Linked DNA regions of Homo sapiens. The protein of the gene in region 3 purifies or fractionates together with the protein of the main gene of each other region. This does not show direct contact. Each region holds a gene or a part of one and is shown on either strand. Other genes may lie near its edges.

The links.
Region 1: the proteins of TAF7L (region 3) and TAF5 purify together in Homo sapiens (co-immunoprecipitation; 3 studies listed by BioGRID and IntAct, with this or other methods). This does not show direct contact.
Region 2: the proteins of TAF7L (region 3) and TAF9B purify together in Homo sapiens (affinity purification with mass spectrometry; 2 studies listed by BioGRID and IntAct, with this or other methods). This does not show direct contact.

The regions. Positions count from the first base shown.
Region 1 is NC_000010.11:103,387,134-103,389,590, reverse strand, and holds the end of TAF5 (transcription initiation factor TFIID subunit 5), read right to left. Parts: intron 2,417-2,457; coding exon 2,239-2,416; intron 2,071-2,238; coding exon 1,893-2,070; intron 1,586-1,892; coding exon 1,368-1,585; 3' UTR 526-1,367; downstream 1-525. UniProt on the Homo sapiens protein: The TFIID basal transcription factor complex plays a major role in the initiation of RNA polymerase II (Pol II)-dependent transcription.
Region 2 is NC_000023.11:78,133,103-78,136,764, reverse strand, and holds part of TAF9B (transcription initiation factor TFIID subunit 9B), read left to right. Parts: intron 1-3,316; coding exon 3,317-3,427; intron 3,428-3,662. UniProt on the Homo sapiens protein: Essential for cell viability. TAF9 and TAF9B are involved in transcriptional activation as well as repression of distinct but overlapping sets of genes. May have a role in gene regulation associated with apoptosis.
Region 3 is NC_000023.11:101,270,906-101,274,356, reverse strand, and holds part of TAF7L (transcription initiation factor TFIID subunit 7-like), read left to right. Parts: intron 1-3,451. UniProt on the Homo sapiens protein: Probably functions as a spermatogenesis-specific component of the DNA-binding general transcription factor complex TFIID, a multimeric protein complex that plays a central role in mediating promoter responses to various activators and repressors.

The DNA.
Region 1 (2,457 bases), on a different chromosome or scaffold from region 3:
AGTACTTTGGGAGGCTGAGGCGGGTGGATCACTTGAGGTCAGGAGTTCGAGACCAGCCTGACCAACATGGTGAAACCCTGTCTCTACTAAAAAATACAAAATTAGCCGGGTGTGGTGGCACATGCCTGTAATCCCAGCTACTTGGGAGGCTGAGGCAGGGGAATCACTTGAACCTGGGACGCGGAGGTTGCAGTGAGCCGAGATTGTGCCATTGCACTCCAGCCTGGGCAACAAGAGCGAACTCTGTCTCAAAAAAAAAAAAGTATTAATCTGAGATACACTTTAATTTTTTTGGTGTTACATCTTTGACAATCTAATAAATTCGCATTCAGTTTCAGTGGGTTCATGTTACCTTAGTAATTCTTGAGTGTCTTAAGAGTAAAGCTGGCCACATTTGTATCTAAACTGTTTGCTTTGTTTATAGGATTTTAAACTGTCTACGGTTCTTAACCTCATCTGTTAAGTTCCCATGCCTGGAGAAGCTAATGCCAACTCATCATGTGATAATTCAATTTGTACAATAAATTATGAACCTGGAAAAGCTGGTTGTCTTTATTTACAAGATATCAAAAATATAAAAACTGTACAAAATGCAACAAAGGCAAAAACTGGCAGTGACTTGGTCTAAATCTTTTAGTTTCCCAAAGCAAGGCTCAGTACTGGAGGTAAGCAACTGAAATGTCTGTCTGACTTCAAGTGTACTAGGTTGTATGTAGCTGTTTTAGCTGAAGTAGAACATGGAAGCTAAATTTCTTCACCTGGTTTATCGAGTGTTTGGGTGCACTCAAAACTCAACAGGTATATAAATTCAGATGTCAGTGGGTGGCTGTACTTCCTCTAGATCTAAGAAAGGAACCCTACCTAGTTACATACATTCCATTAATCATGGGCCAAGAAAAAAAAAGTTAGTGGATCATTTAACATAGTTTTTGAGTGCCATACAGTAACTACGTTTTTACAGCAGAAACATACATGCTCATAGGATTCTTCAGCTAAAATTCAAGATGATAGTATATTTCTGAATTTGAATCTTGAAGCAGGATGAATTATTGAAATCAACTTTTTTTCTAAATGTAATAAATTAAAATAGCATTTGAACAGAAAATGCATAGTTTCCACACAATCCAAAGCACCATAAATGTCCCCTCCATGATCATAATACCTCTTATTCAACTAACGGAAATTAGTCAAATGTGGTTGCTATAGAAACGTGGAACTGTCCTGTTCAGATTTTTCCAAGCAGCATACTTCCAGATCCATATAGACAAAAACATTCTCTGTAGCTTAAATATTAATCACTGAGGTATTTGCTTTTAGTCTCCCTTTTTAAAAACAGTAGCTTCCAAAAGGTCTTTAATACCGATGGTTTATTGTGGACTATAAGCTCCTGCAGCTAGAACCAGGTTTCTTCGAGTAAAATGAAGGTGTACAACTGGTGTTGATTTGGTCATATATGTTCCCAACAATAACTCCTGTGAATTCTCAGGTAAATTTATATGCCCAGTGGCTGTAGTAAAGTCATCGGTCTCTAAATCTTCAAAGGCTTTGATAGCATCCCATAATCGAACTGTATTATCCATTGAACCTAAGGGGAAGTCAAAGGAAACCATTAGTTGCATCCATCATATTTACATTCGGACATTTTGTCCACTACACTATGTATTTACTGTACATTTTGGGTGAAAAATCTAAACTTGACCAATAACTCTATTCCTTCCTAAGGAGCATTATCAAGCAGTACTTTAACCTGAGAAGTGATTGATGTAGGATGACACTCTGGAATCATAGCTAAAGGGAAGTAAAACCTAAAACATAAGGACTTAGTATTGCAGTCGTCAACACTGTTTCCTCTTAACATAGCATTTATCGTAAAGCCATTAATAGTCATTTACCTGATGCCAAAATTTCACCATCTCTACTAAACCTAAGTGAACAGACTGTATCAGTGTGGCCTTTTAATTCTCCAACCATCAAACCATGTCCAATATCCCAAAGAAGCACTCTGCCATCTGTTGCTCCTGTAGCCAGGAATCTCCCATTGGGAGAAAATGTCAAGGAATGAATTGGTCCCTAGAAAAAAGTTCATAGAAAAGATCAAAGTATGTCTAGGAAAATAAGACAAAATTTTAAAGTTTTGTAGTAAGAATGGTATCTTTAAAATTTATGTGTCACTTGTTTAAAAAATATTTTTATTTTGAAAGCAACCTTGGATGCTGGAATAGTAAGAGTGTAAAATACCTTGTGTCCAGTGAAGATCCTTACACAGTTACCATTCAGGACGTCCCAGAGCCGCACAGTTCTGTCTGCAGAGCCCGTAGCAACATAATTAGAATTTGGATGGAATCTGGTACAATTCACATCAGCAAGATGGCCGGCAAATATTCTTAAAGGCTGATAGTGGTCTGTAGCCCAGAGCCTTTTATAAAGTTATTGAAAGCAAAAGATGACAATTAGTAG
Region 2 (3,662 bases), about 23 Mb from region 3:
ACATACATGTTACTGGATTTCAAAATGAGAAAGCCACAAGGAACGTCTGATCTCAAATGAATATAAAATTGGACATTGCCCCCATTGTTGTTGGTATAAACTCTGATACCAAAAACAGGAGTTTACTCTTAGCTGTGTACTTTACGCCTTCTATAAGGTGCCACACACACTTATGGCAGTAGACTACTTATTAGAAATTTAAATTTCCAAATACATTGATGAGAATACAGTAGAAAGAAGATTAAGGTGTACAAAAATCTTAAGGATTTCAAAGAAAAAAATTGTTTTTAATACTAACCTTTTTAAAACATAGTACTGATTGTTTTAGATTGGTCAGTGGGAGCCCCTTCAAGCTGTTTCCTGTGTCCTTTTGACGTATCTGCATCATTCTGTGATCATTTCTTGCTTTCTGATGCAACAAGATGTTCCAAACTCATCTTTATATTTTTCTGCCTAGGTCCTAGAATCATCCACTTGTCCAAAGAGCTCTAGTTCCTTTTAGTGGAGAATGGTATTTAGAAACCATTATTTGTTTCTTTTTAATATTGTTGTTTAGATAATAAGGAAAACAAATAATGGACTTAGATTTCCTGTTTTTTTTTTCCTACATTCCTGCTGGGTTTCTTGCATAGTCTAGTATTCAAAGTATTTTCAGAAAAGTCCCTTTTCACCAGTATTAATTTATTGGCTCTTATTGCTTATAACTTGAGTCCTATAGCTGTCATATAGCTCAGGTATAAACAGCATTTGATTTTTGAGGTGTGTAAACCCTCTCTTCATATTCTCAGGATGTAAATTTGCATTTCAGCATTGTAAAACCAGTTTGGGTATAGTATTAGTTGTACATGTCTAATTACCTACCTGTGACCTTTGTGGACAGAAATCTGCATTATAATCTTTGTAAATTTTCATCATATACTGTTTGTCTGTGGGTTCACATTACTTAAATGAATACCAGCTTTTTTAAACCCCTAGGCTGGTAATCAGTTTCGTGTGTTAGGCAGGTTAACCAATTTTAGTTATCAGTTGTGATTTTTATTCCTAGCTAGACATTTGTTGTACATACTGTTCAGAGATTGTTAAAATCTAGAGTCAGGGCACTACCAAAAAACGCCTGATAGTTTTAAAGATGCAAGTTTTTTTTTGTTTTTATTTTTTATTTTTTGAGACAGACTCTCACTCTGTTACCCAGGCCAGGCTGGAGTGCAATGGCACAATCTTGGCTCACTGCAACCTCTGCCTCCTGGGTTCAAGCAATTCTCCTGCCTCAGCCTCCCGAGTAGCTGGGATTACAGGTGTGCGTCACCACACCAGGCTAATTTTTGTTTTTTTGTGTTTTTTTTTTTTTTCAGTAAAGACGGGATTTCACCATGTTGGCCAGGCTGGTCTTGAACTCCTGACCTCAAGTGATCTGCCTGCCTCGGCCTCCCAAAGTGCTAGGATTACAGGTGTGAGCCACCACGCCAGGCATAAAGATGCAAGTTTTAAAATTTAAAAAAATTAAAATGAGTTGGCCAGGTGCGGTGGCTCACACCTGTAATCCTAGCACTTTGGGAGGCCAAGGTGGGCCTATCACTTGAGGTCAGGAGTTCAAGAGCAGCCTGGCCAACATGGTGAAACCCCGTCTCTACTAAAAATACAAAAATTAGCCAGGCATGGTGGCGGGTGCCTGTAATCCCAGCTACTCGGGAGGCTGAGGCACGAGAATTGCTTGAACCCAAGAGGCGGAGGTCACAGTGAGCCAAGATCATGCCACTGCATTCCAGCTTGGACGACAGAGTAAGACTCTGTCTCAAAAAAAAAAAAAAATTAAAATGATTTATATAGACTTAAGACCTGAGTATTTACTCTGTTCAATTGGGGGAAGCTCCATCTACAGTCTAATGTGTTCAGTTTTAAAGCCTGAACTCCATACCTACTAAAATGTATTAACAATCCTTAGGCCAAGAAAACATCCACCTACTGTGAGTTTTCTTTTTTCTTTATAAAATAAAATACTTACATTGCTTCATTACGCTTCACCAAATTCTTTGAACTGATCCTTAACACATGGGAAAACTTACCTAGGGATGGAGATATTTTAGAGGAAGGTCTCACCTTCTGTGTTTGGGAGAGAAAGCAGTAAAACCCGGATTTCTCAGTACCTTTGGGCTTTATTCCCTTAGACTTTCTTCACCTTTGTCTCTAGAAATGATGATAATTGCAGTGTCCTCAGCAACTCTATCTCTGGGTAGACTGCTGGTTCCAGGGGGAAGGGATGTATTGGAAAGCCTGCATCCCCAAATGAAAAATTGGAAATGGATACATTTCCATAAATGTATTTTTTAAGAGAGCAATGATGTCAGTATATATATTAAGTCTTCGAGTCTTACAAAATACATTTATTAAGCAAACATTTGTTGAGTACCTATTAGGAGCAAGGTAAAAGAGCCATGTGCTCACAAGGATGAAAAATGTTAGTCAAGGCTTGTAATCTAGTCAATGAGATAAGATAATAATGACTCCTATGACGTTAAGGGAACTTCAGAGGCAGGATATAAGACGTTTAACTGAGAAAATTAAGGAAAGTTTTATAAAACGGGGTAGTATTTGAGCTGTACCTTGGAATAATGGGTAGAATTTAGATGACTGGGGGTTTAGACTAGGTTATCTCCAAGATATTTTTCTGCTTAAAAAGTATCTGAACACAGAAAGGGAATAAATTTTCTGGGCCCACCTGGAGACCTCAAGGGGTGTATTTGATCTCTGCTTTAGTTTCATGGGCATAGATGACATCTTCTGATTCTCAGCAGGTGACCAAGATTAAAAGTGCCAACTAAGGTAATAAATAGAAAACCTGGGTCTTTATTCTGGTAGGTTAAACTCTCATCTTTATGTCTTCATCCAGCTATACCTCAGTGCTTACTGTGTACTAGAGGCTGTTTGAAGAGTTTTACAGGGATTATTTTTACTTAATTTTCACAATAATTATATGAAATGGGTGATATATCCCCCATTTTACAGAGGAGAAAACTGAGGCACAAAAATTTAAATAAACTTGCCCAAGGACACTCAGCTAGTAGGTGAGAGCCTGTATTCAAACTCAAGCAGGTAGGCTACAGAGCCTACATTCTTTACCACTATTCTATACTGAATTTTGTAACATCTAAACAAGCTTGTAAATTTTTTTAAGGTTGTTTTGCTCTTATTTCTAATGACTTTTTCCTCACCTTTTATTAGTTTCCTTTGCTTTGAAGATAGTTTGCGGTAAGCTGAGTGTAGAATATAAATCTGTATAAGTCACCTAACAAACATGGTCTGTTTATTGTAACTACAGCAACCCCACAAACGGTGTCTGTCCCAAATAAAGTTGCAACTCCAATGTCAGTGACAAGCCAAAGATTTACGGTGCAGATTCCACCTTCTCAGTCCACACCTGTCAAACCAGGTAATGTGATTGGGAGTGGGGGACAGAATTTGTGAATAATTTGAAATTGTAGGACCGTTTGTATTCCTATAGCAAGAGGTAAATTGTTTTAATACCCAACAGGAAGGTGGCAGTAATGCTGCAAATGAGGGTTCTTCAGAGGGACCTATGAGCCCTCTAAAATTCTGTGAAATTTTACATAAAGTAGTCTCCCCCCTTATCCTTGAGGGATTGTTCCAAGACCCCCAGTTAAATT
Region 3 (3,451 bases):
TGTAGTCTCAGCTACTCAGGACGCTAAGGTGGGAGGATTGCTTGAGCCCAGGAGGTTGAGGCTGCAGTGAGCCATGATCACACCACTGCACTCCAGCTTGGGCAACAAAGTGAGCCCCTGTCTCAAAAAAAAAAAAAATTATAATGAAATGACATTGAACTAACAATGTTATTTGGAGACCTTTTGCATGTCATTTTGCTTAAAGTTGCAGTTTCTAAGAACCTATTGATGACATTAAGTGAGGACTTACTGTAACAAAACGACATTGGACAAAACGATGTTATTCAAGGACCTGCTGTACTTATCCTCGTGGAGCTGTCTAGCAGGGGAGATTGACAATAAACAAATTATACAAATATAAAGTTACAAATTGTGAAGAAGTGCTATGAAGGAAAAAAGTCAGTGGTGCTATTAGAATAAAGGGTCTTGAATTAATTGGGGGATCATGATAGACCTCTCCTAGGAGGTGCTATTGAAGCTGAGACCGGAAGGATTAAGTCCAGGCAAAGAGTGGGATGAGGAGCCTCTTAGGTGGAGCGTATGCAAGGTCTCATGCTCAGAAAGAACTTGGCTTCTTTGAGGACCTTTGGAGTATTTAAAGCCAGGAAGAGAATGGCTTAAGATAAGGTTGGAGAAGTAGGCAGAGACCATAGTGTATGGTTCCTTGAAGGCCATGATAAGGAGGATGGGTTTGGCCTTAAGTGTAATGTGAAGTCCTTGAAGAATTGTAGATAGGAAAATCACATCTAATTTAAACTTTTTTTTTTTTAAATGGAGTCTTGCTCTGTCGCCCAGGCTGGAGTGCAGTGGCACAATCTAGGCTCACTGCAACATCCGCCTCTCGGGTTCAAGAGATTGTCCTCCCTCAGCCTCCCAAGTAACTGGGACTACAGGCACGTGCCACCATGCCCGGCTAATTTTTTGTATTTTTAGTAGAGACAGGGTTTCACCGTGTTAGCGAGGATGGTCTTGATCTCCTGACCTCGTGATCCACCTGCCTTGGCCTCCCAAAGTGCTGGGATTACAGGCGTGAGCCACCACGTCTGGCCTAATTTAAACTTTTAAAAGGTTACTCTGATTATTATCTGGAGAATGGGTTGGAAGAAGGTGAGAGTAGAAGCAAAGAGGCTGGTTGGGGGGCTTTGTGGTACTCTAATAACAGAGGATGGTAACTTGGACTAAGTTAGTAGCAATGGAGATTGAAAGAATATAGATTTTTAAACTGCAATAAAAATGTTTTTATAACAGATGTAATTCATAAACCATACAATATCACCCATTTAGGCTGGGTGCGGTGGTGCGTGCCTGTAATCCTAGCGCTTTGGGAGGCCAAAGTGGGCAGATGGCTTCAGCCCAGGAGTTCGAGACCAGCCTGGGCAACATGGTGAAACCCCGTCTCTCCAAAAATTAGCCAGGCATGGTGGTGTATGCCTGTAGTCCCAGCTGCTCGGGAGGCTGAGGTGGGAGGATTGCTTGAGCCTGGGAGGCAGAGGTTGCAGTGAGCAGAGATCCCACCACTGCACTCCAGCCTGGGTGACAGAGTGAGACTGCCTCAAACCCCGTCCTCCCCACCCCCGACAAGTCACCCATTTAAACTATACAATTCAGTGGCTTTTAGCATATTCAGAGTTGTACAACCACCACTGCAGTCAATTTTAGAATAGTTTCATCACTCCAAAAAGAAACCCTGTATCCATTAGTAGTCACTCCCCACTTCTCCAGAACCTCTCCCCTGCCCAGCACTAGGCAACCACTCATCTAGTTTCTACTAATCTACTGCCTATTCTAGTTATTTCATACAAGTGAAATCATATAATACATGGTGTTTTGAGTCGGGCTCCTCTCATTTAGCATATTTTCAGGGTTCATCCATGTTATGGCATGTATCAGTACTTTTTTCCATTTAAAACTGACTAATACTCCATTGGATCAATATACCACATTTTGTTTATTCATTCATCTGCTGATGGACATTTGGGTTGCTTTCACTTTTGGCTATTATGAATAATGCTGCAATGAATATTGATATATTAGAGAATATACTTTAAAGGTAGAATTGACAGGAGTTGGGTCAATTACTGGGTGTTGAAGGAGAAGGAATCATTAAGGATGTATGTATTTCTAACTTGAACGACAACTGTATTTTTCAAAGCCACAAGAGAGTGTACAGGGCGAAGAGAGAAGAAGGCAATATAGGCTAAATGAGGGTCAAGCAGCTGTATAGAAAATGTGTGCTGACTCTAACCTTATACTGTTGAGGGTTACAATTTTAAAGAGACTGGAGTTGGTATTATGAGGATGGGCTTAGCATGGTGCTCTTGAAGTACAGGCACTACTCCCCACCCCCATCCCCACAAGGCTAGCGGAATTTTTATGTTCTATATATTCCCTTCCTCTCAGCAAATCACTTATCCAAGTACTGCTTAATACTGCTTTAAAACAATCAGATGAACAGTTAATGCCAGGATTGTTTTAGTACCCACCAAACATCTTTGTTTTCATCAATGTAAGTACAGTTGTATGCTGCATAACAACATTTTGGCCAATGACAGACTGCATATATGATGGTAGTCCCATAAGATTATAATGGAGCTAAGAAATTCCTGTCACCTGGTGACACTGTGGCCATCATAACATAGCAGCAGAATTACTTAATTTTTAAATTATTTTACTATAGCCTAAGTATATAGTGTTTATATAGTCTTCAGTAGTGCATAGTAATGTCCTAGGCCTTCACATTCACTCACCACTCACTCACTGACTCACCCACAGCAACTTCTAGTCCTGCAAGCTCTATTCATAGTAAGTGCCCTATATAAGTGTACCATTTTTAATTTTTTATATTGTATTTTTAGTTTACCTTTTCTATGTTTAGATACACAAATACTTAACATTGTGCTACAATTGCCTACAGTATTCAGTACAGTAATATGCTGTACAGGTTTGTAACCTAGGAACGATAGACTATACTATGTAGCCTAGGTGTGTAGTAAGCTATACTATCTAGGTTGGTGTAAGTATGTTCTATCATGTTCGCGTCATGACAAAATTGCCTAAGGATGCATTTCTTAGAACATATCCCCATTGTTAAGTAACACATGACTATATTTAGTATTGAGGAGCAGCATAGAAATGTAGCTGTAAACTTTATTTACTCAGAGTCCCTTATGTTAGTTCATTTATCCAAATTAGATTTAGTAGGTGTCTACTTTAAGCTAGGCTCTACAGGGAGCTATGATATGCTTATGATGTAGTCTCTGTCTTCATTTGGGGAGAAATTGGCAAGAGGGGTAGGGACTTAAAGGAATGACAGATTGTCCATGGATATTAAAGAAGACTTCATGGAGAAGATGGTGTTTGACTGGGGCCTTAAAATATAGGTAGGGTTTTAATAAGGAGATAGGGAAAGGAGTGCATTCCATGAGAAAGCAGCATGCACACTGGCTCAGAG